Homo sapiens: one gene and its partners. The protein of the gene in region 7 purifies or fractionates together with the protein of the main gene of each other region. This does not show direct contact. Each region holds a gene or a part of one and is shown on either strand. Other genes may lie near its edges.

The links.
Region 1: the proteins of CAMKK2 (region 7) and XPOT purify together in Homo sapiens (affinity purification with mass spectrometry; one large-scale study listed by BioGRID and IntAct). This does not show direct contact.
Region 2: the proteins of CAMKK2 (region 7) and IREB2 purify together in Homo sapiens (affinity purification with mass spectrometry; one large-scale study listed by BioGRID and IntAct). This does not show direct contact.
Region 3: the proteins of CAMKK2 (region 7) and GCN1 purify together in Homo sapiens (affinity purification with mass spectrometry; one large-scale study listed by BioGRID and IntAct). This does not show direct contact.
Region 4: the proteins of CAMKK2 (region 7) and ATG4B purify together in Homo sapiens (affinity purification with mass spectrometry; one large-scale study listed by BioGRID and IntAct). This does not show direct contact.
Region 5: the proteins of CAMKK2 (region 7) and ESYT2 purify together in Homo sapiens (affinity purification with mass spectrometry; one large-scale study listed by BioGRID and IntAct). This does not show direct contact.
Region 6: the proteins of CAMKK2 (region 7) and FEZF1 purify together in Homo sapiens (affinity purification with mass spectrometry; one large-scale study listed by BioGRID and IntAct). This does not show direct contact.

What each region holds. Positions count from the first base shown.
Region 1 is NC_000012.12:64,441,950-64,446,026, reverse strand, and holds part of XPOT (exportin-T), read right to left. Parts: intron 953-4,077; coding exon 896-952; intron 1-895. UniProt on the Homo sapiens protein: Mediates the nuclear export of aminoacylated tRNAs. In the nucleus binds to tRNA and to the GTPase Ran in its active GTP-bound form. Docking of this trimeric complex to the nuclear pore complex (NPC) is mediated through binding to nucleoporins.
Region 2 is NC_000015.10:78,497,034-78,499,979, reverse strand, and holds part of IREB2 (iron-responsive element-binding protein 2), read right to left. Parts: intron 2,855-2,946; coding exon 2,669-2,854; intron 1,948-2,668; coding exon 1,837-1,947; 3' UTR 1-1,836. UniProt on the Homo sapiens protein: RNA-binding protein that binds to iron-responsive elements (IRES), which are stem-loop structures found in the 5'-UTR of ferritin, and delta aminolevulinic acid synthase mRNAs, and in the 3'-UTR of transferrin receptor mRNA.
Region 3 is NC_000012.12:120,184,287-120,188,363, forward strand, and holds part of GCN1 (stalled ribosome sensor GCN1), read right to left. Parts: intron 602-4,077; coding exon 538-601; intron 1-537. UniProt on the Homo sapiens protein: Ribosome collision sensor that plays a key role in the RNF14-RNF25 translation quality control pathway, a pathway that takes place when a ribosome has stalled during translation, and which promotes ubiquitination and degradation of translation factors on stalled ribosomes.
Region 4 is NC_000002.12:241,647,116-241,651,192, reverse strand, and holds part of ATG4B (cysteine protease ATG4B), read right to left. Parts: intron 184-4,077; coding exon 82-183; intron 1-81. UniProt on the Homo sapiens protein: Cysteine protease that plays a key role in autophagy by mediating both proteolytic activation and delipidation of ATG8 family proteins. Required for canonical autophagy (macroautophagy), non-canonical autophagy as well as for mitophagy.
Region 5 is NC_000007.14:158,759,916-158,763,992, forward strand, and holds part of ESYT2 (extended synaptotagmin-2), read right to left. Parts: intron 3,251-4,077; coding exon 3,168-3,250; intron 1,630-3,167; coding exon 1,581-1,629; intron 233-1,580; coding exon 143-232; intron 1-142. UniProt on the Homo sapiens protein: Tethers the endoplasmic reticulum to the cell membrane and promotes the formation of appositions between the endoplasmic reticulum and the cell membrane. Binds glycerophospholipids in a barrel-like domain and may play a role in cellular lipid transport.
Region 6 is NC_000007.14:122,301,493-122,306,031, forward strand, and holds the start of FEZF1 (fez family zinc finger protein 1), read right to left. Parts: upstream 3,259-4,539; 5' UTR 2,946-3,258; coding exon 2,145-2,945; intron 1,820-2,144; coding exon 1,685-1,819; intron 1,440-1,684; coding exon 1,307-1,439; intron 864-1,306; coding exon 505-863; 3' UTR 1-504. UniProt on the Homo sapiens protein: Transcription repressor. Involved in the axonal projection and proper termination of olfactory sensory neurons (OSN). Plays a role in rostro-caudal patterning of the diencephalon and in prethalamic formation.
Region 7 is NC_000012.12:121,241,095-121,245,171, reverse strand, and holds part of CAMKK2 (calcium/calmodulin-dependent protein kinase kinase 2), read left to right. Parts: coding exon 1-32; intron 33-556; coding exon 557-599; intron 600-1,042; coding exon of another isoform or gene 1,043-1,048; exon of another isoform or gene 1,049-1,584; intron 1,585-4,077. UniProt on the Homo sapiens protein: Calcium/calmodulin-dependent protein kinase belonging to a proposed calcium-triggered signaling cascade involved in a number of cellular processes. Isoform 1, isoform 2 and isoform 3 phosphorylate CAMK1 and CAMK4. Isoform 3 phosphorylates CAMK1D.

The DNA of each region.
Region 1 (4,077 bases), about 57 Mb from region 7:
TTAAGCTGACAAACTACAACTAAGAAAAAACTGACAAGGGAAGATGTTAGAACCACAGTCAAAGGATGGCACACTTAAATTATTTACTGCGCAAAGCCCTCTGACTTACAAATTCTACTGAATGTCTTTGCTAAAAGAACCAGGTGATACACTAAGTTACCTGCTACTGAATTTAATACAGTGCTTTGTCTTCAAATTATTTGAGTGAAGATAATAAAAAATAATTCACCTTGTCACACTGTAACTTTATTTCTAGATCATGAGCTCCTTATGGGGAGGGAAAATTACTCATAGTTGTATTTGCAGCCATTACTGTAGTACTTGGTACATAAAAAGCAGTCATTATGTATGAAATGAATGACTACCTAGGTAAGACCAAGACAGTTTCATCTCATGAACTCAATTATAACTATGAATACCAAATAAACACGTGACACTTTTTGTTGATTTACAGAGTTAAAAAAAAAAATCAGTAATTTCGTAAATGTAAAAGGAGGCTTGATGGCCCAAATCTGAGGATTCTCCTTTTTGTCTGTTTTACAGTTCAAATGTTTCAAAATAGGATATAAGCAAATATCTCATCCTTCTGTTTTTATATTTTTAGCCCCTTCTTTTCAACTTAATTTGGACAACTGTTCTTGAACATTTCTTATTCTCCTAATCCCTCTAGTTTCTATTTAATTACATCATGAAACTGTAAAAGAAAACTGGCATTTTCTCACCAATATACTCAAAGGTGTACACATTCAGTGTGCTTACCTAACTTATACTCTTTTTCAAGAGCTTAGTTAAAAGGGACTTCACATAAACATCTATAATTGCAGGTATGTATTCTCTCTTGGCTCTCAAACATTACCTAATTGTATGAAGATACGTGAGCTTCACAAATACCTACCTTTAAGTAATTTTTAAAAACTTTAGCATCAGGCTGCTGAAGCGCTTGACAAAACTCCTGGGGGGTGGGGAAAAGAGGGAGAAAAAGAACAAATGTATTTGTATTAAATCCATTGTAATTCGTATCCAGTTTTTTTTTTTTAATTTTTTTTTTTTTTTTAAGAGATGGTCTTGCTCTGTCATCTAGGCTGGAGTACAGTGGTGTGATCATAGCTCACTGTAGCCTCCAACTCCTAGGCTCAAGGGACACTCCCACCTCAGCCTCCCAAGAAGCTGGAATTACAGGCATAAGTCACTGTGCCCAGCTCTTTTTTTAAAAAAGCTGTAGTTAAAAACACTTAAAACTTATCACCTTAACCACTTTTACATGTACAGTACAGTAAGCATTAACTACATGCACACTGTTGTACAACAGGTTTCTAGAACTTTTGCATCTTGCAAAACAAGCTTGCTTTTTGCCTCTTAACTGAAGAACTCCCCATTTTCCCCTACTCCAGCCCCTGGCAACCACCACTTTCTGCTTTGGTGAGTCTACTTTAGATATCTCAAACAAATGGAATCATAGAGCATTGTCTTTTAATAACTGCCTTATTTCATTTAGCATAATGTCCTCTAGGTTCATCCACATTATAGCATATGACAGGATTATTTTATAAATCAGGCTTAATATTCTATTGTATGTATATACCATATTTTGTTTATCCATTTATCTGTCAAAGGAATTTAAGGTTGCTTCAAATTCATGGTATTTAACTTATCAAGATTAATTCAAACAGTATCTCACCACAAGAGGTTTATAGCATTTTCAAATGTCAGTACTTGTCAAACAGGCTGCTTTCACTTTTGAGAACATAGCTCTCCTAGACAAGGTGGATTCATGCCTGAGAGGAGTGAATGGGACAAAAACTACATTGCTACGGCTGCTCACATCTAGTAAGAGGGATAACCAAACAGAGCTAGACCAAAAGAAAAGAAAATTCTAATAGAGAATATTGTGCAAAATGTGTTGTCAGACATAAGGCATATGAAAAAGGGAAAACTGAGGTTCCTTATCTTTCATAATGAATTACTAAATAGAAAAATAATTTTATTTCATTTAGCAATCTGGAAGATTAGCTGTAAACTGAATGGTCTAAGTTCTACTTTTGATGAGCACTAAGATCACAAGAATAGTAATTTATTATTTTCATTAAAATATGAGTTTATTTACATATCAAATGATAACCAAGAAAGTCATTAATATCTCTAAAGGTGGTATACTGTGAAATAAGAGATCACAAATTCATTAAAAATGAGTTAAATTCATTTTTTAAACTCATGTGAAATCTTTATTTTTGAAAAAAACAGCATTATAAAAACTTCAAAAAAACACCATTGAGGCTGGGCACAGTGGCTCATGCCTGTAATCCCAGCACTTTGGGAGGTCAAAGTGGCCGGATCACTTGAGGTCTGGAGTTCAAGACCAGCCTAGCCAACATGGTGGAACCCCATCTCTGCCAAAAATACAAAAACTAGCCAGGTGTGGTGGCATGCGCCTGTAGTCCCAGCTACTTGGGAGGTTGAGGTGGAAGAATTGCTTAAACCCGGGAGGCAGAGGTTGCGGTGAGCCAAGATCGCACCACTGCACACTAGCCTGGGCGACAGTGGATGACCCTGTCTCAAAATAAAAATAAAAAACAAAAAAACACCATTGAAAGCTGTGTTCATGGACTGAAGACTTAATATTGTTAAAATGTCTTTGCTACCCAAAGCAATCTGCCGAGAAGTGATGTCTGCTGTTCTCTTACCTCTCTTTGGTGTTTGACTGCCACCACCTATGAAGGGGCCCTTACCCTTCTGCAATACCCAGACCAGGGTGATGTAGTAGTGTTCAGGGACTTGGTGAAGGTCATAAGAGTGAATTATAACACACATGGGGAGCTGGGTGACAGTGGCAGGAAATTTGTATTTTTCAACATACCTCAAATCCAAAAACAAAAAAAACCCTTGGATCGGGCACGGTGGCTCACGCCTGTAATCCCAGCACTTTGGGAAGCCGAGGTGGGTGGATCACGAGGTCAGGAGTTCAAGACTAGCCTGGCCAAGATGGTGAAACCCTGTCTCTACTAAAAATACAAAAATTAGCTAGGTGCAGTGGCGGGTGCCTGTAATCCCAGCTACTCGGGAGGCTGAGGCAGGAGAATCGCTTGAACCCGGGAGGCAGAGGTTGCAATGAGCCGAGATCGCGCCACTGCACTCTAGCCTGGGTGACAGAGCAAGACTAGAGCAAGACTCCATCTCAAACAAACAAAAAACCCTTGGATGCAGATCATGATGTTTAAGAACACAATACCATTACCCTTCCTACAATTCTATTTATATTATGAAGAGCAGGTCCTGGTGGATATAGAAATCAAGATGAATAAGGAGATTATGGAACACATCAAAAAAATCGTGGGGAAGAATGAGGACACAAGAAAGGAGAGCAGGAGAAAAAGCAGCTCTCTCACCCAGCTCATTTTGGCCTTCAAAGTAGTTCTGATGGGAATCTACCTGTGAAGTTAAAGGGCAGGTGCCCTATCCAGGCCTAATGGCATTAGGAGACGACAGGGAAGTACAAAGCAACACTGAAAGCCAGTGCCTAGCAGTAAGGTCCAAGGACACTATGGGCTAGGGTAATTGATATGGGGTTACCTTGGTCACAGAAAAGCCCCTGGTTCTGGACAGGTGTGGTGGCTCACGCCTGTAATCCCAGCACTTTGGGAGGCCGAGGCCAGTGGATAACTTGAGGTCAGGAGTTCAAGACCAGCCTGGCCAATGTGGTGACCCCGTCTCTACTAAAAATACAAAAATTAGGCATGGTGGTGGGCACCTGTAATCCTAACTACTTGGGAGGCTGAGGCCGGAGAACTGCTTGAACCCGGAGAATTGCTTGAACCCGGGAGGTGGAGGTTACAGTGAGCAGAGATTGTGCCATTGCACTCCAGCCTGGGTGACAGAGCAAGACTGTCTCAAAAAGAAAGAAAAAGATGACGACTCTGGAAATGTCTTTGCAATAAAAGGGTCCCCCCCCCACTTTACACATTATGTAAAATGACACAGGGGAAAGAGTATATAAAACTGAGCTGCTAAATGAATATCCCTGTTCCATCAGGTCAACAAAATGCTTCTTAATGGCCAGGCAAGGTGGCTCACGCCCGTAAT
Region 2 (2,946 bases), on a different chromosome or scaffold from region 7:
TCAGGAGGCTGAGGCAGGAGAATCCCCTGAACCCGGGAGGCGGAGGTTGCAGTGAGCCAAGATCGCGCCATTGCACTCCAGCCCAGCCACAGGGCAAGACTCCGTCTCAAAAAACAAAACAAAACAAAATAGATTTGTTTCCCCCTGCACAATCTGGAATTACCATTTCTTCAGAGCACATACAGGCATTTCATCTTTCAACCTGTAATTTCTCCTAACTCATGTTTTCATGTAAATTAAAAACACATGCACTAACAAATAAATATACAGCATATATCAAGAACACAATATAATTTGAAAGTGTCGAAGAAAATACTTATACAAAATTTAAATAAAGAAATCATTTTGTCGAACTCTAGTCCATCTTATTGTCTAAACACATATTTGCAAAATATTTTCAAAAGATTGTATGATTATGTGCAAAGTTCTTAGTGGTCTTCATCCACTGGTTTGGTAGTTTCAGCATTTTGCTTACAACAAGTAATTCTTTATGCAATGTGAACTAATTCTGAATTGCAGTAACTAACTAGGTCATAGAAAGATATCTATGTGAAAAAAAATCACTACAATTAACCTTTAGCCTGCTAGACTTAGTTTCTTAATTAAAAAAACAGTATAGAACCTTCTATAATTAATTTTCCAACCTTTTTAAAAAAAATTACCAAACATCTTGTTGACAGAACATTTGATGTGATGGGCAGACATGCATATTGAGGATATATAGTACTCAGCAACAACTTAAGTGTTTTATCCTTACGGTCAGCTTTGGTTAAAACAGTAACATAACAAAATTAATAGAATCATGCATCGCAGGTGATAAATGATTCAAAATGACAGGAAATCAATTTAATTAAGAAATAGCAACACTTAAAAAATGCATAGGGTTGAGCACCCGTATTATTGAGGGTGGATAATTTAAATGTATAGAAGAAATCAGTTCAGAGTTTAATGATTGAATAACATTCTCTTTAGCAACTATGAGTGTGAAATTTTGGTTAATGATACCGAAAATATTAGGTTATAGGAAGTTACAGTATTACATAAGGTGAGCAAAATAATCTAATCCAATTAATATAACGCCATCTGGGGGCTTGCCAGACAGTCACAGTGGCAAACTGCTGAAATATGAAAGGCTGCATCATATGTGATACATATTCCCACTGCTAATACATGGTGCCACACAATCAGTTGTATCCTGCCATGGTCCATCTTCATATGTGGAGGGAACCTTGGCTGGATTGGACAGAATGATTGTGACCTGGGGCAGGTTCCATCCCTTGCAGTTAGACTAAGGATAAACCTGGTTATATGACAAACTAAGAATGCCAAATGTGTCCAGCTCAATTCTGAAGAGGAATTAATATACTTAAAAGGTCCATTTATAAATGAGATTCCAATGGCCACAATTTTAGAGTCTAATCTGGCTTCTTATATTTCAATCTGCTACTCTTAAACCAACAAACAGTAGTACACAGTTTTATTGGTGCAAAACTAAACAAATCCAGGAAGGTTATTCATATAAGAATCTTCAACACAAATTCTGCCTTTATTTACAAAATGGTCTGATAAAATATCGCCCCCCCCCCATACTTACAGGTCTCTTCCACAACACACTTCACACGTTGATTTTAGCAATATTAATAGCACCATTCGTATATTATTTAAAATCAAGAAGATTTCATTTCAGTTACTATGTTGATTCATCATCATTTACATCCATGGATGAGATAAGTGAGTATACTGGGACTATCTGCTGCTCCATGGTAAGGATTCCTGGGTCCAGCACAAAAGGCTTTGCAGTTACCAGTTATGAAAGGTATCTATGGTAAGTAGATACTATGAGAATTTTCGTGCCACAAAGTTTAATAATCCTCCATGTTTGTATAATGTTATTTCCACATCATCTTCAAACGAAGCAATCACGCTGAATACTTTTCCAGTGCTTGTCTTGAAAGGAGCAAAAACATCTCATGTGAGCAAGTAAATCTTCCAGGTGCTACTTGATGGTTAAGACCATTTGTCTTCATATTTAATGACTATACTTGCCACAGATTCTGTCTGATTTATCTTGGTTCTAATTTCTTATATTCTGATTGCCTGAAACTTTGCTGCTGCTTGAAAAACACCTGAGATACCTGACCATGGGCTTCATAGTTAAGTAGAAAAATAGCTGCATTTAGATTTTGACTTATTAATTGGGGAAGTTATACTCACTACTCACATTCATTTTACACCAAATATTGATTGCATGTAATCAGTAACTCCTACTCTTTCCCCTTTTTTCTTAGTTGTAAAGTCTGTTTTGCTCTAACTTTGAACGCTCAACTTTGCTCTCTTTGGAGTGGTATGTATGCCTCGGTTAAAATTAGATCAGGACAGCAAAAAAATGACCACCATGAAAAGAAAGCTGACACTTGTTAAGTGGAAGTCAAGATTCCCCTTCATGTGTTCTTTTTTTCTGGTATAAGCACCCAGTTCTTTCCACTTTTCCTCAGAGAACATGAACTATTAACATAGCTAGATCTAAGTATGGAAGAGAGAGTCATCTTAAATGGCAACTTAACATTCATTAAGTGACATTAGTATATAATTTACAGCAATTGATTCTTATTCAATAATTCATAAACATTTGAGTGCATAATCATATATTTGAAAAATTTAGAGATACCTGTATATTCAATGTAATTCCAGGAGACAGTTCTTCAGGAAATGTTAAAGAAAATGTTTCTCTACCGGAGAGGCCCAAGGAATCTGCATTTTCTCCTGGAAGGAACTGAAGTGGAGCTATGCCAATTCCAATCAAATGATCTTTGTGTATTTTTTCATAACTTTCGGCCAAAACAGCTTTCACACCCTGTAATAAATGTGCATTTTATTCCCTCTAATCACTTCTGAAAGTTATTTATTGAGCATTTAAAGGGGGCAAAAATCTACTTTGGCCTTTCT
Region 3 (4,077 bases), 1.1 Mb from region 7:
GCAGAGGCAGGGGCAAGGCTGCTCAGGCCATACACTGGTCTTTCTCAGGAGAAACTGATCACACCATATTCCAGTGGATAACAGAGAAGGGATTAGGAAATAACTAGATAAACTCACCTCCTCCTAGAGTTCTAAAAGTATCTCATAAGGGCAAATAAGCCATTGAGTGTGTAAGGGCAGCACCTACATTTATGGAGCAGTTATAAGGGTCTCAAAGTAGGCCAGACGATTTAACACACATGACTAAATGGCAGCATAAACACATTGACCACTATGGCACAGCAGGCAACTGTTCCAGGCACCTCACGCTTACTAACAACCACCCATGAGATAGAGAATGGCACCATCCCCATTCTGCAGACAAGGAAACTGAGGCACAGAGAGGTTAAGTAACTTGCCCAGGATCTAATGGCTAGGATGTGACATAGCCCAGATTTGGCACCAGGCAGTCTGGCTCTAATCTGGGCTCTAACCACTACTCTAAATCCCCTCTCTGTACAAAGTGCTCCACATATGGGGCCTTTGGCTGGGACTCACCTATATCGATGCAGAGTCAAGCAGAACAATTTGCAGAGCCCCTTCACTGCTCCCTCTGGAAGATCTGAAACCAGAGATTACACAGACAGCGGTCAATAAAAATCACTTGGTAAGCCGCTGGAGTCAGGTATTCTGCCCAGACATGATCTCAGCCCACTGGACACTCCCCATATATTTAAGACCTTCCTCCCCAAGAGGAAAAAGCAACAACAAAACAGGACTCTAGGAAAATGCCTGGTACAGAAAAGCTTTGGGTAGACATTTGCTAAATGAACGAAACTAAGAAAATAAAAGTGGCCTCGAAACCTCACATGCCATCAAGAGGAGGTTCAGGAGTGCTGGAATGGTTCTACTTCTTGATCTGGGTGCTGGTTATACTGGTGTTTAACATGTGATGATTCAGTGAGCTGTTCCATTAGGAGGCGTACCTTTCTTCACATACATTCTAATAAACGGTTTAAAAAACAGTGCAACACTGAAGTACTATGAGGGACCAGAAAAGGGAAGAACACCTATAACTGGAGTGTTTCTGAAAGTCTGAAGGACACATAAGCTTGGCCTATCAGATTAGTAGGCTCTGGAAAAATGGAAAGAGAGGGAGATACATGTAGAGTGCAGGGTTAAGAAGGCATAATACCTATTCAGAACACATGAAGAAGAAGAGAGGACTAATAACACCCTAGCTCTTAGTGCTTACAAGATGCCAGACCCTGCTCTAGATCATTCATACACATTCACTCATTTAATCCATGTAAGGTGGGCAGTGTTATTAAGGCCCCCCCGCCTTTTATTTTTCAGACGGAGTCTCACTCTATCGCCCCGGCTGGAGTGCAGTAGTGCGATCTCGGCTCACCGCAACCTCCGCCTCCCAGGTTCAAGTGATTCTCCTGCCTCAGCCACATGAGTAGCTGAGACTAAAGGTGCGCACCACCACGCCCAGTTAATTTTTGTATTTTTAGTAGAGACAGGGTTTCACCACGTTGGCCATGCTGGTCTCAAACTTGTGACCTTGTGATCCACCTGCCTCAGCCTCCCAAAGTGCTAGGATTACAGGCGTGAGCCATCGCACCCGGATTAAGCCCATTTTTAAATGAAGAAACCAAGTAATGGGAAACCAAGCCAGCCAGTCAGAGTGAAACAGATACACCCTAACTCTGGAGTGAAACAGATACACTCTAACTCTGGGCAGAAAGAGTTCAACTCTTGGTTGAACAAGAGTGCTCAATATGGCTGGGGGCAGTGGCTCACGCCTGTAATCCCAGCACTTTGGGAGGCCAAGGTGGGAGGATAACTTGAGGTCAGGTCAGGAGTTCAAGACCAGCCTGGCCAACACGGTGAAACCCCGTCTCTCCTAAAAATACAAAAATTACCTGGGCATGGTGGCACGTGTCTGTAATCCCAGTTACTCAGGAGGCTAAGGTGGGAGGATCACCTAAGCCTGGGAGATTGAGGCTGCAAAGAGAATCGCTTGAACCCAGAAAGTGGAGGTTGCAGTGAGCAGAGATGGCGCCACTGCACTCCAGCCCAGGAGACAGAGCGAGACTCCATCTCAAAAAAAAAAAAAGAGTGCTCAATAATGTTGGAAAGCCAACCTGTGACAAGTGCTGCATGACACAGTGAAGCACGCAAACAAAAGGGAGGAGCTTCTGAGGAGGAGGAAATTTAACCTGCAGTGTAAGACAGACTTATACTGGGTGTAGGAAGAACCTGAGAGCAGGAGGCCCATACCATTCCTCACACTTCAGGCACCTGAATGATGGAAGAGAAATGAATGAGGTACAGGGACGCAGTTTCCCCAGGGCCCTGACCACTGCATTGGTCCATGTGATTTGGGGCTATTTCAGTAACTGGGGAAAAAGAATGACTGGGGCCAGAAACAGGTTGTGGCTAAGACAATGACAATAACAGCTAACACACACTGTGAGCTTACCATACCCAGACAATGCGTTACATTTACTCCAACCTATCAGGGAAGTACTACTGCTATCTCCATGTTCAAAGCAAAGAAACAGGCTCAGAGAGGTGAAGTAACTTGAAGCAGGTCACACAGCCTGTAAGTGGCACAGCCCATCTGAGCCCTTCATCACTGACTGCTGCACTAGAGGCCTGTGACTGGAAAGATCGGTATCACATGGCTGCCTTTTCTAACTAGAGGGCTCTGCTGGGAAAGTGACCAGAAAAACCGTCGAGGATGCCATAAAACTCATACATTGAAGCATTAACACACAAGAGACTCTCTGAGACGCTCACAAATAGCAAGTTTACAAGCTTGGGTATCTTACTAGGCATAAGCAGGTCAGAAGCAGCAAATGAGAAGTTGGGTGAAGTGGTAGAAATAGGAAGTAAAAGTGGACAGAAAGGGAGACCCAATCTATATGGCCATGATTTTCTTTTTTTTTTTTTTTTGAGACAGAGTTTCGTTCTTGTTACCCAGGCTGGAGTGCAATGGCGCAATCTCAGCTCACTGCAACCTCCGCCTCCCAGGTTCAAGCGATTCTCCTGCCTCTGCCTCCCAAAGTAGCTGGGATTACAGGTGCCCACCACCACACCCAGCTAATTTTTTTGTATTTTTAGTTGACACGGGGTTTCACCATGTTGGCCAGGCTGGTCTTGAACTCCTGACCTCAGGTGATCCATCCTCCTCGGCCTCCTAAAGTGCTGGGATTCCAGGTGTGAGCCACCAAGCCCAGCCATGGCCATGGTTTTCAAACTTTAGTAAACATAGGAATCACCTAAAGGACTCGTTAAAACACAAATGCTGGGTTCTGTGCCCAAACTTTTTTTTTTGACACAGGGTCTCACTCTGTCACCCAGGCTGGAAAGCAGTAGCACAATCATGGACCACTGCAGCCTCAACCTCCTGGGCTCAAGCGATCCTCCCACCTCTCAACCTCCCAAGTAGCTGGGGCTACAGCACCTCCAGGATTTCCGATTTGAGTTGCTCCAATGGAGCTGAGAATTTTTATCTCTAACAAGTTCCAAGATGATGCTGATGCTGCCTGTCCAGGGACCACACTTTGAGAGCCAATGCTATACGGTAAAAACAAACATACCAAAAGAAATGAAAAAAAAAAAAAACAAAAAACTAGAATTTATTGAGTGAAGGCAAAATGGTCTTACTCTAATAAGTCATAGAGCTATCCCTTGGTTATGGTGCAGATCAGGATAATCAGATATGCTCAGCATTTCCCAAAATGTGTTCCCCAGACCCTCAACAGATTTTCAGCAAAAAAGAGGTTCAAAGAAAACACTGAATCCAAGGAAGCTTAATAAAGTGAAAACACCTTGTTGCGAATATTCCAAGAGGACATCAAAAACATGACCTCTAGGCTGGGCATGGTGGCTGACGCCTGTAATCCCAGCACTTTGGGAGGCCAAGGCAGGCGGATAACCTGAGATCAGGAGTTCAAGACCAGACTGGCCAACATGGTGAAACCCCATCTCTACTAAAAATACAAATATTAGCTGGGCGTGGTAGCAGGTGCCTGTAATCCCAGCTACTTGGGAGGCTGAGGCAGGAGAATCACTTGAACCCGGGAG
Region 4 (4,077 bases), on a different chromosome or scaffold from region 7:
GAGTTAGCAGAGAACAGTGATCACAAAATGCTTCTGCAGGCCAAGCGGTCAGACCAGGGTGGGCTCCAGCATGGCCGATACCTGTGAAAATGCTGTATTTTCTACCCAGTATCCAAACGGGCTCTGAGGTCTCAGGAAAATCTTCAAACTCAGCAAACCGGAGAGTGTCGTAGGTCAGAGTAGCTGTTGAAACCAAAGATGCACAATCATCAGACACTTATAATTTCATAAACTAGTATCGAAAGAGGCCATTTACAGCATTTCTGTGCTGAAGAGAACAACTGTAAATTCTTGTAACAGCAGCACTCCCTCTCGTATCTCGGGCCTACCAAGACACCCACCATGGATGGAGTAAACTCTTAGGAAAGAGAAGGAGGCCCTGCTGGGCAGCTGCTCTGCTAAGGTATGGGGACAGGGAGGTGGGGCCAGCATGCTACTTCCTGAGCCTTTCATATTCTGAGCCACTGAGTCAGTGTCTAACAGCTGACACGAGGGTGAGAGGCCAAGTTAGGGGCCAACCTGAGGGGTGAGAAAGCAAAAAAATGAAAACCCACCCGATTCAAGCACTTACTTTAGACTTAAAAAGTAAAGGACAAAAATAAAGTTAAACCACCTCCTTCATCCTTGTACGCAAGGGAAGCCAAGAAGAAACAGGGCAAAGAGTCGTTTTCCATGGCCATCCTAAGGTTTACCAGATGTCACCATGGCAGCGTGTTCAGAGTCACTGTGATGAAGGCAGATGCTCCGGGGCAAGAAACACTGAGCTGCTGGGAAGACTGGGGTTCTGGTCTACCCCAATTTCCTGGTTAGGAGCAGGTGCTGGAGAAGCATGGGGTGCTACTCTCAGGTAGAAAGTTAACCCCTGGACACTGAGAGATCAAACTCTCTGCCAAGTCCCCAGAGGTACCCGGGTACAAAAAGCCTAGTGATCAAGGACTGAACCTGTTTTCATTTCAACAATGCTACCAGAAGAGCATGCCACCACTTCCATGGGGCAACACCCCACTTTCTAAGGAGGCAGCTGGCTGCAGAGCCATGGTGCTTACCTGCTGGGCTAATGATTAGCCCTGCATGCCATCTTACTCTGTTTTACTTCAATTAAGAAACTAGGCCAGGCACAGTGGCTCATGCCTGTGATCCCAGCACTCTGGGAGGCCGAGGTGGGCAGATCACCTGAGGCCAGGAGTTTGAGACCAGCCTGGTCAACATGGTGAAACTCCGTCTCTACTAAAAGTACAACAATTAGCCAGGCGTGGTGGCGGGCGCCTGTAATCCCAGCTACTAGGGAGACTGAGCCAAGAGAATCACTTGAACCCAGAAGGTGGAGGTTGCAGTGAGCTGAGATTGTGCCACTGCACTCCAGCCTGGGTGACAAGAGTGAAACTCCATCTCAAAAAAAAAAAAAAAAGAAAAAGAAAAGAAAAAGAAAAAAAAGAAAGAAAGAAACTAGAGAGGCCCAGGGTCTTCCTGTCCACAGAACTGTGGCTGAGGATACCCATGTCCCACAATGTTCCTGAAAAGAAGGCGCCAGCCAGCAGCAATGCACCAGCCCAAACACCCATGTGGCGAGATGCCCATTGCGTATTCTGGGGCGGCACCAGAGGCATCTCTCTCCAGCTGCTCTTCAGGGAACTGGGAACACACAATTCCCATCTGCTGCCTCTCCAGCTCTGATGGTGTCTGATCACTCATCCTTCACCAGCAACTTTACAGCAATCTTTTGAAAATCAATCACATATGAATTTCTCCCACATCTAAATTTACTTTTTGATAACAACCCCACACTTCAATAAGAATGACATATGCTAATCATAAAAAATTCTGAAGACTACAAAAATACACAAATCACGTGAAGCCTCGTTGCCCAGCAATGACTCTTTCCAGAAGTCTTTATGCACAGGTTCGTACGTGAAATCATACTATGCCTGTGGTTTCCTCAGCATTCTACATAAACACAGATCTCCACCTAAGCTGATACTAAAAAGCATCGTGTGTGAACTTCTGTGCTGTGCACAATCCCCTTGGGGAGGCAGGGGGCAGTCAGAATTTAAAGCCCAGCTTGGGTACTGGTAAACTGTAGTTTCCTGGGCCACTCACTTAACTTCTAAGTGTGAATGTTCCCTCATCCATAAAATGGGATAACAACAGGACAGCCTCAGCATATGGGTGTGACGTTTCAATGAAACACTTCCAATGAGGTGCTGGCTGGCAGACAGAAGGGCTGCAATGTCCGCTCTGTCATTAACATCGAGGACTCAGAACCACAGGGTCAAAGGCACACAAATTTTACTATACCCAAAAGCCTTAATTGTATGCGCAGCTAATTCCCAAACACAGGGTTCAGAAGCACCTGCAAGCATCTCCCTCGGTGCAGGCAGAACTACCAAATCCACAATAGAGGGCCCTACAGGCACTGTTTAAAGGATTCTCAGCTGTGGGAGACCCAGGCCCCTCTCTGCCCCTTTCCTAGAGTAGTGCTGTGGCTTCCTGAGCAAGATGACGGGCGTTGTGGAGCGGCTGCAGCCAGATGAAGCAAGCTTTCCACAGCAGGGCTTTGTCCAAGAGCTCTGCTCCTGTTTTTTTTTCTTTTTTTTTTTTGAGACCGGGACTCATTTTGTCACCCAGGCTGGAGTACAGTGGTGTAATCACAGCTTACTGCAGCCTCAAACTCCCAGGCTCAATCAATTCTCCGGTCTCAGCCTCCTGAGCAGCTGAGACTACAGGCATGTGCCACCACACCCAGCTAATTCTTGTATTTTTTGTAGAGATGAGGTCTAATCATGTTGTCAAGCTGGTCTCAAACTCCTAGGCTCAAGCAATCCACCTGCCTTAGCCTCCCGAAGGCTGGGATTACAGGCATGAGCCACTGCACCTGGCCCCCAAGAGCTCTGCTCTTACATATTTCACTTGTCCATGCTTTCAGAGACATTATCAACCAAACTGCTTGGTGACTGTGAATAAATAAAGTCCAAGTTTACATTCTCTCCTGCCTTTTTATATATATGTTACTTGTTTCTGCACATGATTACAAAAACTGAATTAGGATGAATTAAGGTCCATGCCTTTTTTTTATTCTTTTGTGATGGAGTCTCACTCTGTTGCCCAGGCTGAAGTGCAGTGGCATGATCTTGGCTCCCTGCAACCTCCACCTTCCGGGTTCAAGAAATTCTCCTGCCTCATCCTCCCGAGTAGCTGGGATTACAGACATCTGCCACCATGCCCGGCTAATTTTTGTATTTTTAGTAGAGACAGGGTTTCACTGTGTTAGCCAGGCTGGTCTCGATCTCCTGACCTCAAGTGATCCACCCACCTCGGCCTCCCAAAGTGCTGGGATTACAGGCGTGAGCCACAGCATCCGGCCCACTCCTATCTTTTTAAAGAGCTGAAAAACATCATGATGTCCCTGCTACCTCTCTAAAGCCACTCCTGAATCTTCAGAAGTCCCTACTATTCTTTGACCTGTAGGCTTTATTCAATATATAGACTAAAATCCAGAAAACTTATTCTCAAGGAAAAAGGATGAAAACACCACCGGTCTAATTTCTTTTCTTTTTTTTTTTTTTTTTTTTTGAGACGGAGTCTCACTCTGTCGCCCACCAGGCTGGAGTGCAGTAGCGCGATCTCGGCTCACTGCAAGCTCTGCCTCCCGGCTCATGCCATTCTCCTGCCTCAGCCTCCTGAGTAGCTGGGACTACAAGCGCCCGCCACCACGCCTGGCTAATTTTTTGTATTTTTTTTAGTAGAGACGGGGTTTCACTGTGTTAGCCAGGATGGTCTCAATCTCCTGACCTCATGATCCTCCCGCCTCGGCCTCCCAAAGTGCTGGGATTACAGGCGTGAGCCACTGCGCCTGGCCACCACCGGTCTAATTTCAACACTGCAAGACAATGATTCCATCTTGCTGTTGGAACATTCTTCTCATGTTTGACACCGTTCCAAGGCACCAGCTTTGAACTAAAGATACACATATCTTTTATTTAAAGTACAGCAGAGCTAAATGAACACTGGCAAGTATCTCTTTGTAGACTACAGATGTTCCTTAATTAGGATGGGATTATGTCCAATAAACCCATTGTA
Region 5 (4,077 bases), on a different chromosome or scaffold from region 7:
TACTGTAGTGACTTATTACACAATAATGAAAATTACTGCTATAATTGTTAAAAAATCAAGTAGCAACACAACTGAGAGACCAAGCTCAGTTATGAGGAGTAGTTGGTTAGGTAGTTTTCAAGAGCACATGCTTCAACAGCACCTTGTCGAGGTTTGACGCATTTGGCATTAACGTGAGCCACTCCAGTCTCAAGTGTAGCTTCCCCTTGGGAACCTCGTCCAGAGTGAACCACTGAAGAGAAAAAATGTTTACGTTCAGCAAAAGTTCTTCTGAATCAAAAATCCAAATTAAACCCAGTCTCTACAAATGTTCCATGCTGCTCACTAACCACGAGGCATCAACAGTTCTCAGTAACGCGAAGGCTGAGCCTCACCATATCCAGCTCTACGCTATGTGGATGCCAGTGACCTCACGTTTGGAGGCGATGGCAGCAACAGGTGTGAGCGACCATTCTAAGTGCTTTACACACACCAACCCCGTGACCCCGACAGAAACCCTAAGCAAGTACTAGTATCATTCCCACTTTACACATAAGAATTCAAATGTTTTCTAGCACTACCTAGAGACAGTAAAGTCTTCTATGAATAGACTTCTTTTTTTTGAGATAGGGGTCTTGCTGTGTTGCCCAGGCTGGGCTCAAGCGATCCTCCTGCCTCAGCCTCCCCAGCAGCTGGGACCACAGGTGTAGGCAAGCATGCTCCACCAAATGGCCTTTAACGGAATGTACAGGGTAAGAGGTAATACAACATTGATTCCAAATACTGAATTTCAGTATCAAACGATTTAATCTGTTTGTTCTAATTCATCACTCTATACTAATAAAATAGTATACAGTTGTATCAGCTTAAAAGTCACAAAATAATTAATCAAAGATGCTCCTCAAATGCTAAATGATAGAAGCCATGGGCAGGACTGTCCATCCAGTGCCTGGCACACCCAGGAAAACGAGATGTCACAGCCAATGAATGCTGAACACTCAAGGGAAGGAAACGTGTGATTACGAAAGCAGCAGAATTCAACACTTTTGTTTAATTTTGCTTCATTTATCTAAATCTTACCCTTCTTTTAGAAGCCACCACAAATGTTTCCTTTTTGATACTTTTTATTCTGATAGCAATAAAATGGTGGAAGTCGAGTCTCCTTGCCATGAGTTCCCACTGTCTCTACAGGCATCTCTCACGTGAGATGCCTCACTGGCCGCACTGTGCCTTCTCCACCATTCCCTCCAAACACCTGAAAATCTCCATCACTAGGGGGCATCTCGCACAGCCCTGCCCTTACTCCTGCAGGGGATCGCATATTTGTCTGCAATAACGTCAGTTTATGCTTCATATCCGTAAGGATTCCCAGCATATGGTAGGGACTCAACACGCACCTGAATGGACTCTTAAATTTATTTTTCATTTGCTATTTCTAAAAGGCCTAAATTCTTAGTATATGTTAAGTAAATGTTGTTCATGCCATACTAATTAGGATTCCGGCACTGTGTGATGGTGAAGGGGTGGTTCGTGGCTCCTCTGGCACAGGGCAGGGACTCAGTCAACAATTGTAAACAGACCCACACTCCAGGGAAACTTACTTCATCTAAAAGGCGCTCCTTTTCAACTTCAATGAGGTCAATCATAAGACTATAAAAATAACAATACGACAACTTTAGAACATAGAAACACATTTCTTACTGAAACAACTTTAAAACATAGAAAACACATTTCTTCCTGAAACAACCTTAAGCATTTGTCTATGAACAAGCACTCCAGAAATGCAACAAAACGCTAATAATTTATCAAGGAACAGACTATTTTTCCACAAGCTTCCTCCAGCTCACCCCCAGTGTCAGGAGAGTAAGGAAGAGTGAGGTGGAGTTTCTGTGAGCTCAGAATACTGAGTTTGGCCCAGCTGAGGTTAGAGCTGTAAAACAAAAACAAAAACAACTCATCTTCCCTACAATGTTACATGCATCAAAAAATGTTTGAAAGCATCTCAACCCTCTTATTTTACACGTCCTCTTGGAACGTCTTATTTTATACGTTCACTCACAACTCCAGTAGGGTTGTGCGTTACTGTGGATTCCTCACTCGCACAGTGAACGCTAACCTCACGTTCCCCCACCCTTGCTCCCAGGCTCTAGACCCATGCTGCATTGAGCCCGATGGACGCCCTCACTCGGTGCATCTGAGAGGAGGCCCATTCCCGTTCCCCTAAACCTCCCGTACTTCCAAGATTGGCACCACCCCCAGACGCCAGATACAACTAGATGGGATGATTATACTCCCACTTCTTCTTGTAGCCTCTTCTGCCCCCCACAATCTATGTCTACACCGCCTTCTCTCTGTCCTGGTCTATGACACACTCTCCTATTTGGTCTGCCAGTCTCTAAGCTCAGCCCCCGACAATCCAATCCACACAGTGATTTTCCTAGAATGAGCACCTGATCTATCCTGTCTGGCTTAAAATCTCTCAATTGTTCCTAGTTGTCCTGGGAAGTCTCATGAACTCTCAAGTCAGGCCACAACGTGCAAGGGCCATTCTTGATGAGGTATGAACCTCTCCAATGTATTCTATCCCTACATCTTTTTTGCCACAATTTAATTCAGTCAAATAACTTAATTAGGTTAAATTAATCAGAAATAATTGATATTAACAAATGGTGGTCAAACAATAACCATTTTAAAAGTTTATTTTTAAAGCTATACTAGTTGTTCAATTGAAGTGAACAAACCAGTATTTATTTTCCCAATGTGAATTACTATATCCTGACAAAAATTAATCCAGCAACTCAAAAAACTTAAAAAACCCATTTTTGCAATCTGGAATAGAACTGTCCACTAGAACTCAATACGGCGGCAGGTTCTGCATGTAGCTTTAAGCCTTGTAAACAAAGAGAGTGCCACTCAGATAGTTTTTAATTTATTTAACTTTAATTAACTTAAGGCTAGTGCCTGCTGTAATAGACAGCACAGATCTAGAAGACTCACTTCTCTTAAATGTGAAACTTTTAGGAATAAAAATGTTTTAAGAAATCCAAGGTGAAACAATTGTTATATCTAAGAACCATTTAATGAATAGACAACAAGTATACAAATGTATTTTAAAACATACTTTTGATTATTAAACAAAAAGACTGACCCCATGCCCTCCTCCAATAACCACAATGGGCTTTATTTACCTTCCTAAAAAGTCATCCTTGTCTGGGTCTTCATCAAAGAGCTCAATCTCTAATTCTTGTCCAGGATGTTCATACACTAAAGCCTAAAACATCAATGGTTAGTAGTTAAGTGCATTTTTACTAATATAGTCATACACTGAGTATGATATGATGATTGTAGTAAATATGACCAGGTACTTTTCTCTGGTGGTAAATCCTTATTTATTTATTTATTTATTTATTTATTTCTGGAGATGGAGTCTCGCTCTATCTCCCAGGTTGGAGTGCAGTGGCACAATCTTGGCTCACTGCAACCTCCGCCTCCTGGGTTCAAGCGATTCTCCTGCCTCAGCCTCCCAAGTAGCTGGGATTACAGGCATGTGCCACCATGCCCGGCTAATTTCTGTATTTTTAGTAGAGATGGGGTTTCACCATGTTGGCCAGGCTGGTCTCAAACTCCTGACCTTAAATGATCCACCCACCTCGGCCTCCCAAAGCGTTGGGATTACCAGTGTGAGCCACCGCACCCAGCCAGTAAATTCTTTTAGGACACTTATTTTTTTATTGTCAAGTCACACACACCTCTTGAGGACGGGAGGTCACTGAAACACCTGCCACACAGTAACAGTCTACCGTGCTTGTTTCTAGGGATCCTGGATTGCGTCTCAATAGATCAAGTTCAATCACTCCAACAAGGTCATGATACGTCACCCACAAGCTTGGTGCAAGGCATGAGACAGACCAAAGATCCAGGACACATCCCTCTAGTCCTGAAGTGGCTCCACTCAGATGCTATCTTGGAATAACCACGAGTTATCTGCTTAGCACCACTCAGGGTAAGAAACTGGCAAGAGACCAGACTCACAAAGGAGTGGGGGAGAGGAGTCGTACGGTGAAGTATAAACCGTACGACTGTTCTGAAGGGTAATTC
Region 6 (4,539 bases), on a different chromosome or scaffold from region 7:
ACATACACACAGTGTTTTGTTACTTCAGGGAAAGAGGAAATGATCAACATCCAGCAGACATCTTGAGACCGGAGAATCAACACAATGGAAATATATACAATAATAAAATTAAAATGATGCAGCATTCCCGGGTAGAATAATACAGATCTCAATAAATATAGCAGAAATTTGTTTAAACAAAACAAAACAAAATAAACACCATCTCTCCACCCAAGATGAAAAGTCTTTCCAAATTAAAAAAAAAGAAAAAGAAAAACAGAAAACAAGCAAAACCCTCCAAATTTTTCATAATTGTTAGTGCCTATATAGAATATAATACACAAAACCATTTAGCAGGTGCATGCAAGAGGCGAAAGGCCAGGGGATGCAGAGGCTTCTGGTCGGCCCTGAAGTGTGGGGCCCAACATGCCCTGGGGTCTGCAGACGAACTCGGACCAGGAGCTCTAGTCTGCCGCTGCCTCAGCGTGGGGGCACGGCTGAGGCTGGGAGGACCCTTAGCCTCGATCACTGGTGGCCCTGGTGGAGCCCGGGCTGCAGGGGCCCCGGGGTTGGCAGCGGCGGCTGCAGAGGAGGCAGCGTCATCGGCGGCTGCTGCGGTAGCGGGGGCGGCGGTTCAGTGCCTGGTTCGCCAGCTGGCGTGCGGGCCAGCCCCAGGCTGCTGTCGTGCAGCTTGCGGACATGCTTCTTGAGGTCAAAGTTCCTGCAGAAACCCTTGCCGCACGTGGGGCAGGTGAAAGGCTTCTTGTCGTTGTGGGTGTGCATGTGGAAGGTGAGGTTGTAAACCTGGTGGAAAGCCTTGTTGCAGATATTGCACTTGAACTGCTTCTCCCCGCTGTGGGTCAACTTGTGGTTTTTGTAATTCCCTGAAACACACAAATGACAGGAATATGGTTCTGAAAAAAAAAATAGCTTAAAAAGGGAGGAGCAGACACGTGGAAGGTAGCGCCAGGCAAGCAGAAGAGCCGCCACAGGTCCCACAACAAGTGCAGGGCTACTATCTGTGCCTGCACTTGTCTCCCCAAGTTTATTTTCAAGCATCGCATCAACAGTGATGCCGTTTCCTTAAATTTTAATACACATTTATCAGTCCAATTACATACAATGAGAGCATGCAGTTAAAACATATACCCTTGTTTTATGAATCATGCTTTTCTCTAATACTAATCAGACTTCGAGTAGGGAGTTAGAATGGCAACAAAAGTGCCACATAACTACACTTTAAACATCGTCTTCTAAAACATCCCGAAAGTATTAAGTATGGCTTTTCATAAGACTAACCATGAGAGACATTTCCTGGTTTGCATACCTTTTTGATGAAACCCTTTGCCACAGAATTCACACACAAACGGTTTGTAGCCCGCGTGTATTCGGGTATGAGTGTTTAAAGTGGAACTTCTATTAAATGCTTTGCCACACTGGTTACATTTGTGAGGTTTTTCCTAAGCAGGAGAAAGGAAAAGCAGAGACATTTAGATATTTTCTAATTATGTGAAGTTCTGCAAGCTCAAAACACAGTAATGCTTAAACACTTTCAAGCAGAACAAAAGCAAACAATACATGGCATTCACCCTGTTTAGCTAGCACTTTTTAAATGAACGTTATCCTAAAGAGTAAGGTTTTATCGGCTGTTTTTCTGCAAACAGTTCGGAAGCAAACTAGGTGAAATTGAGACAGATGAACACACCTGCGTGTGAATGATCTTGTGCCTGCACAGGGTGCTTGCTTGCCTGAAACCTTTTCCGCACACTTTGCAAACGAAGGGTCTGGCTCCTGTGTGCACTGGCATGTGACGGGTTAAGTTATAGTGCGCATTAAAGACCTTAAAATTAAACACACGTAGAACAGGTTAGCCGCACAAGTAACTTTGAAATCAAACCGGGCAGAGAGAGGGTAGGAGGAAGAGAATCTTAACAAAAAGTGTATGCAAATAATTACCCCCAAAATACTAAAAAGGGAGGAAGGAAAGGAGGAGCGAGGGAGGGAAGGAAGGAAGGAAGGAAGGAAGGAAGGAAGGAAGGAAGGAAGGAAGGAAGGAAGGAAGGAAGGAGGGAGGGAAGGAAGGAGGGAAGGAGGGAGGGAGGGAGGGAAGGAAGGAAGGAAGGAAGGGAGGGAAGGAAAGGATCTCCGTTTTGCATTGTACTTGCCTTTCCACACACTTCGCAAGTGAAAACTTTGGGCTTGGCATTAGGAGAGCCTCGGCTGAAATCCGAGGTTTTGAACGCGATTTTTTCCGACAGAAGCTGGGCGCTTTCTTTCATGTAATGCTGCAGCTGAGCCTGGGACAGGTCTTTGAAAGCTACTCCAGAAGGGTATTTCTCCACCGCCGGGACCACCAGTTTATTCCTTTCGGCTAAATACGTTTTTGGCTGCGGGTGCAAAGGGGAACTGAGGAAGTAGGAGGCCACCGGGTGGATGTTCACGCCGGCTGCCGGGTGGCATGGGCCGTCACCTCGGTTCAGGTAGCACAAGGCGCCCATGGCGTGGAATGAAGAGTGGTTGACCACACGCGGCCTTACCAGCTTGTACTGCTGCAGCGGCAGCGCGTCGCGGGCCAGGTCGCCCTTGAGACTCAGTGCGCAGTTGAGCAGGTCGCTGCAGCTGAATGCGGGAGCCGAGGGCACCGCCGCGGGCGCCGCCGGGGCCTCCAGACTGGCCTTCCGCGGCTCGGAGCCCGTCACTCCTGCCTTGGGGCTCGTGTCGTAGGCCACAGGCACGAAGGGGATCATGCAGGGGATCGACGAGTTGAGATGCAGAGAGTGCTTGGGTTCCCCCTTGGGTAAGGCTCCCTGCAGGAAGTGGGGGACTGGCAGGGCCTTGGGCTCTGGGGTGCGCGCCATGATTCGTTCAATGGAGAAAGCCAAGGGTTTGGACGTGCTCATCATGTTGCCCCGAGCTGGAGCAGTCGCTAACATTTTGGTAGTCGCGTTGTGGCAGCTACTGTCCATGTCTGAGTCGCCAGCGTCCGTCAGCCGGGGCTGGGTTGCGCCGTCCGTTGCCTTGTTCCCTGCTTGTCACAGACCTGCGGAGAGGGGGACGGGCACCATCACCACCAGTAGCCTCCTCCTCCTCCTCCTCCCCAGCATCACCAGCCGAACCTGCCTGCCCAGCCCAATGGACTCCTGCCAGCCCATCGCAGAGTTCTTGGCGCACCAATGACTCGGGGACAATCACTACTTATTTCTATCAATAGAAAGTGTTGTGTCAATAACGCAGCCAAGATCTCGCCAATCGTTAACTTCCAAGAGGAGAAGGTAAACTAGATAATTGCTCAATTCGCTTCCAACAGTCAACAGGAAAACTTTTTTTTTTTTCATCTGCAGTCAGTAACTACTTTTCATTGGTGAGTGAGGTTCCCCGCCCAGAAAAGGCGGGGGCGCTTTCACCCGCTTGGCGCGCCCTCCCCTCTGCGCACACACTCTGCCGCGCACACTTCACTACCCTCCGCACCCCCCCATCCCCACCCCCCTTTTGCTTCCTCTGCCTTTCTAATTCTCAATCTGCTTAACCAGGCTTTAGAGGCCAAGCAAATCTGAGATCAATTTTCTCGTTTAGCTCTAAGTGACATCATCTAAAATCATTGTGCAAGGGCTAAATAAGGAAACGGAGTCTAATTCAGGGGCAAACGCCAGGCTATATTTATCAAACGCCAAGCTCCAGAAAGCCTCGGCTAGGAAGCCTCGGCAGTGAAATCCGAGGTTTCGCTGCTTGGTTCCACTGGGCCTGGGTGGGCCGGGCTGGGCCGGGCTGGGCCGGGTCAGATCTGTGCCACCTCCGCAGACCTATTTCTTCCTCCAGGGCTCGGGGTTGCCCGCTCCCGGAATCCCGGAGTCTCCGCGGCCCGAACCGAGTCTGGACCATTTAGAAGACGCCGGCAGGTAACTGGCCTCCCCAAACGCCCCGAAAATTAAAAGCCTTAGGAGGCTTGTTCTGTGTTTGTGGTTTTGTAAAGGCAATGCCCGCGGCAATAGGCCTGGGAAAGTCGCACTTTCATCCACAAAGTTGAGGAGTTGCAAGGAATAATTGGGTGTCACACCACAAGCAACCTTGACTCGATCGGACCCCACCCAGGATACACACAGACGCGCGCGCGCGCACGCTTCCGAGTTTCCATTGAGAGTCTGGAAAGAGCATTTCTTTCTTAAGTACCTGCGCTCAGCTAGAGCTCTCCCGGAGCATTTTAAATACTGAATGCCGAGCGGAGAAGGGAAACAGAGTGTATTAATCCCCACTCCGGTTGCCGGTGTCTGCAAGCCTCCTCTAAGCAGCGCAGGCGGCAGCCTGGATGTCTGTGCGCATCAAGGAGACTTGCCGGCGCCAGAGTTGTGTCCACAGGTGCACTTGTGCCTCCCAAAGAGCGCGCGTAGAGACCATTTCCCCTGCAACGCCCCCCAGCCGAACACCCGCCGGGTGTGGCACCTCGGCCGAAACTCCTGGGGCGGCGCGGTGGAGCGTGTGGAGGTTTCCGGGAAGACGCCTACGGCTGCGGCTCCGACTGTGCGGGCTCCCGCCGCCCAGGCAAGAGCGTCCAGGAGCGCGCTG
Region 7 (4,077 bases):
CGCTCACTGTCAGCGCCTGGAAACTTGCTCACGTGAGTGGCCGCCTGCCTTCTTGGGTGGGGGAGTGGTGGCTGGAGGCTAGGCTTGGGGCAGCCCTGCCCAGACCACTCTGCACAGGTCCTCCCTGAAGTGGTGCCATCTGGAGAGACTCAGATGAAACCCACCTGGTGCACTGGGACAGTCAGCACCCCAACCTGGGCTCAGCCCACCTCCTTTTGCTGACAGCTAATCCACCTGAAGTTTACCTTTCTCGGGAACTTGCACTGTAGCTGGGGGGCTCTTGGTCAGTCAGAAGAAAAGCACTTTTGTGGCCCGGGACCGTGAGTGCCTGATGGGGAGGTTTGAGGCTCTGTGCTGGGCGAGCAGTGTGGTCTCACTCAGGACCCTGTGTGTCCATGCAGAGAGGTGTCCACTCATCTGCTGTCAACGCCACCCTGGCTCCAGCTCTATGAAGCTGGTGTTTGGGGTCTGAGTGTCTCAGGGTGGGGGAACGGGCATCCCGTGGATCCCAAGGGTCCCTTCTCACTTCCCTTTTCCCTCCCTCTGGTGATTCCAGCAAAAAACCAACCAGGGAATGTGAGTCCCTGTCTGAGCTCAAGGTAACGCCCGCCTGCCTGTGCCGTAGCCTCTGCTGGGGCCTGAGGGGGGCGGGTGGGCAGCTGCAGAGCACGGGGGCATCCCCACCCGGGCAGATGCTCCTTCCAGCCTGGGCTGCTGTGGCCCGGCTCACCGCGGGCCTCCAGACCCAGTATTAGAATGAGGGGCCTCGGGGGCTTGGACCCAATGGTGGGTCATGCATGTGGGCTGGGGCTGCGGGTGCATGGCGCTCCAGCTGGAATGCCTGAGAATGCACCCAGGTCTGAAGATCCTGTGTGGCACCCATGTCTTCTCAGTGCACGTCAATGGTGTTGAAGCTCTGTCACAGGGCCCATGGGTGCCCCCCCGAGTCCGCATGGTCAGCACATAGGTCAGGCATGCTGCACTGTGTGGCTCTTCGCTAGGGGCTCTCCAGCCTCCACTTCTCTTTCTTTGATGTGTTTAGACCTAGAAAATAAGTCCCCTTCCTGCCTGTTGCAAAGTAACGTAAGAGTTCCCTCACCCGAGTGGATGCAGACCTTCTTGCTGTCAGCCACCCTTCCTTCATACACATAGCCAGCCCAGGTGACCAGAACCTCCCAGGACAGATGAGGCTTTGTGTCCTTATGAGACTGGGAGAACCTGCTGGGCACCCCTGCTGCAGGTGCTGTGGTGGGTGGGGACCCCACTGCCCTTCCCACTGAGCACATCATGGCTACCTGACTTGGTGGGAGCTCCAGGCAGTCACTTCTGTTTCTTAAACATAGCTTTACTGAGGTACAATTCACATACCATGTAATTCACCCACGGGAAGTGTATGATTCAGTGGTTTCTAATACAGACTTCTGCAGCCATTACCACCGTCAACTTTACGACATTTTCATCAGCCCAAGAAGACACCCTACACTCCTTAGCTGTCCCCATCCAACTCCCCCACCCCAGTAACCACTCAGAATAGGTATGGATTTGCCTATTCTGGACGTTTCGTATAAATGGCGTCATACACTACGTGGCCTTCTGTGTCTGGCTTCTTTCTCTCAGCATCATGTTTTCAAGGTTCATCCATGCTCTACATGTATTAGTGCTTCATTCCTTTTCATGGCCAAATAAGATTCCATTGTTTGGATGCACCTCACTTTGTTCATCCATTCCTCTGTGGATGGACTTGTCTCCACCTTTTGGCTATCGAATGAAGACTGATGCTATGAACATTTGTGTACAAAGTGTTAGGAGTTGGCTTACGAGATGAAATGGATTGACTAGCAGGCTGGATGCAGTGGCTCACGCCTGTAATCCCAGCACTTTGGGAGGCCGAGGCAGGTGGATCATGAGGTCAGGAGTTTGAGACCAGCCTGGCCAATATGGTGAAACCCCGTCTCTACTAAAAATACAAATATTAGCCGGGCATGGTGGCGCACACTTGTAGTCCCAGCTACTCGGGAGGTGAGGCAGGAGAATCACTTGAACCCAGGAGGTGGAGGTTGCGGTGAGCTGAGATCACGTCATTGCACTCCAGCCTGGGCAACAAGAGCAAAAATCTGTCTCAAAAAAAAAGGCTGGGCGCGGTGGCTCACGCCTGTAATCCCAGCGCTTTGGGAGGCCAAGGCAGGCGAATGACGAGGTCAGGAGATCGAGACCATCCTGGCTAACACAGTGAAACCCCGTCTCTACTAAAAATACAAAAAATTAGCCGGGCGCGGTGGCGGGCGCCTGTAGTCCCAGCTACTCGGGAGGCTGAGGCAGGAGAATGGCGTGAACCCGGGAGGCGGAGCTTGCAGTGAGCCGAGATTGCGCCACAGCACTCCAGCCTGGGCGACAGAGCGAGACTCCGTCTCAAAAAAAAAAGAAAAGAAAAAGAAATGGATTGGCCACCCATCCCGTGGGAGTCAGGGCTTATATGGTAATCTAGGAGGAACACCTGTTTGGGAATTATTTATGCTTTTGAGAGAAACCTTGCCCTCCAGCATAGAGCAGGGAAAATGGCAGTCCTTCAGAACCGGTCTTCAGCAGTCTCAGAAGGCAGACACAGTCCCCAGCTTGTGCCCAGACAGACGCCTGGGCAGCCCCGCCTTGGGTGTGAGCCTCACGGATGATGGAGTGGAAACCCAGCGGGCTGGCCTTTCCTCGGCCTTCCTCCTCTCAATCTCCATTTTAGGGTTTGCCAAACCGGGGCTGCCTCCTGTCTCTGAGCAAGTCTGCTGTTGGTTTCTTTCCTATTTTCTTTCTTTCTTTCTTTCTTTCTTTTTTTTTTTTGAGACAGGGTCTTGCACTGTTGCCCAGGTTGGAGTGTTGGAGTGTAGTGGTGTGATCTCGGCTCACTGCAACCTCTGCCTCCTAGGCTCAAGCGATTCTCCTGCCTCAGCTTCCTGAGTAGCTGGGTTTACAGACATGTGCCACCATGCCCAGCTAATTTTTGTATTTTTTTAGTAGAGATGGGGGTTTCACCATGTTGGCCAGGCTGGTCTTGAACTCCTGACCTCGGGTGATCTGCCTGCCTCAGCCTCCCAAAGTACTGGGATTACAGGCATGAGCCACTGTGCCCGGCCTTCGTTTCAATGAGATCAAAATTGCAAGACACCAGCAGATGGAGACTGGCCCCAAAGGGCTATGCTGCCCCTTCCTTTCTTCACCTGGGATCCCCTGCCCTCAGCCCCCAGCAGGTAGGATGCCTTGGTCATGGGAGCTCACAGAGCTGATTCAGGCACTGGGGGTCTTGGACTGGGGGCCTGCCTGCCGTCTGCAGTAAGACCCAACCCCTACCAACAGGCAACTGCGAGGGCAGAGACTGAGGGCCTGACCTAACGTCTAGTTACAGCGCCCCCCTCCCCAGGGACCTTACCCACATTCTCCATCAGAAACATAGCAAGCCAGACATCACGCTTCCTTTCCCTTGTGTAAGGACAGTCTCCCTCCTGGACAGGAGACACGGATTGTTGTGGGGGAAGGACAGACAGTAACCCATGTGGCATGCCCAGTGACCTCCCTAAGAACAGGGGAGCTGTGTGATGGTGGTGAGGGGATAGGCTCGGGGATTCCCCTCGCACCTGTCACGCCATCCACGCTGTCACACCGGCGGCTCCAGCCTGGGCTCTTCAGGGAAACAAGGGCTCTCCTCCTCCCACTTCCAAGAGGGAAGGGGCCTCCTCTTCTGTCTGAGGTGCTCCTCCCTCAGGGCTGGCTGCAGGAGGGCTGAGGCGGGAGGATCCCTGGAGCAGTTGTCATCTGCCCTTTCTTGAGGGCCAGCTGTGTGCCAGGCCAGGCAGGGGAGGCTCTGATCACCCCCACACACAAGGAACTCAACATCTGGTGACTGAGGACAAGCGTCACAGTCCCTTCCCTGTAAGGGCTCATAGCCTAAGTGGGGGATCGAAGTACCTAAAAACCTGGTATGACAGGCGCCGTGGGGTGGGGGGTGCCTTCTACTTGGGATTTGTGCAGTGAATTTTGGTGTTACATAGTTTTGGAACTGTTGTACGGGTCCTTGCTATTTTTGGCAAATGA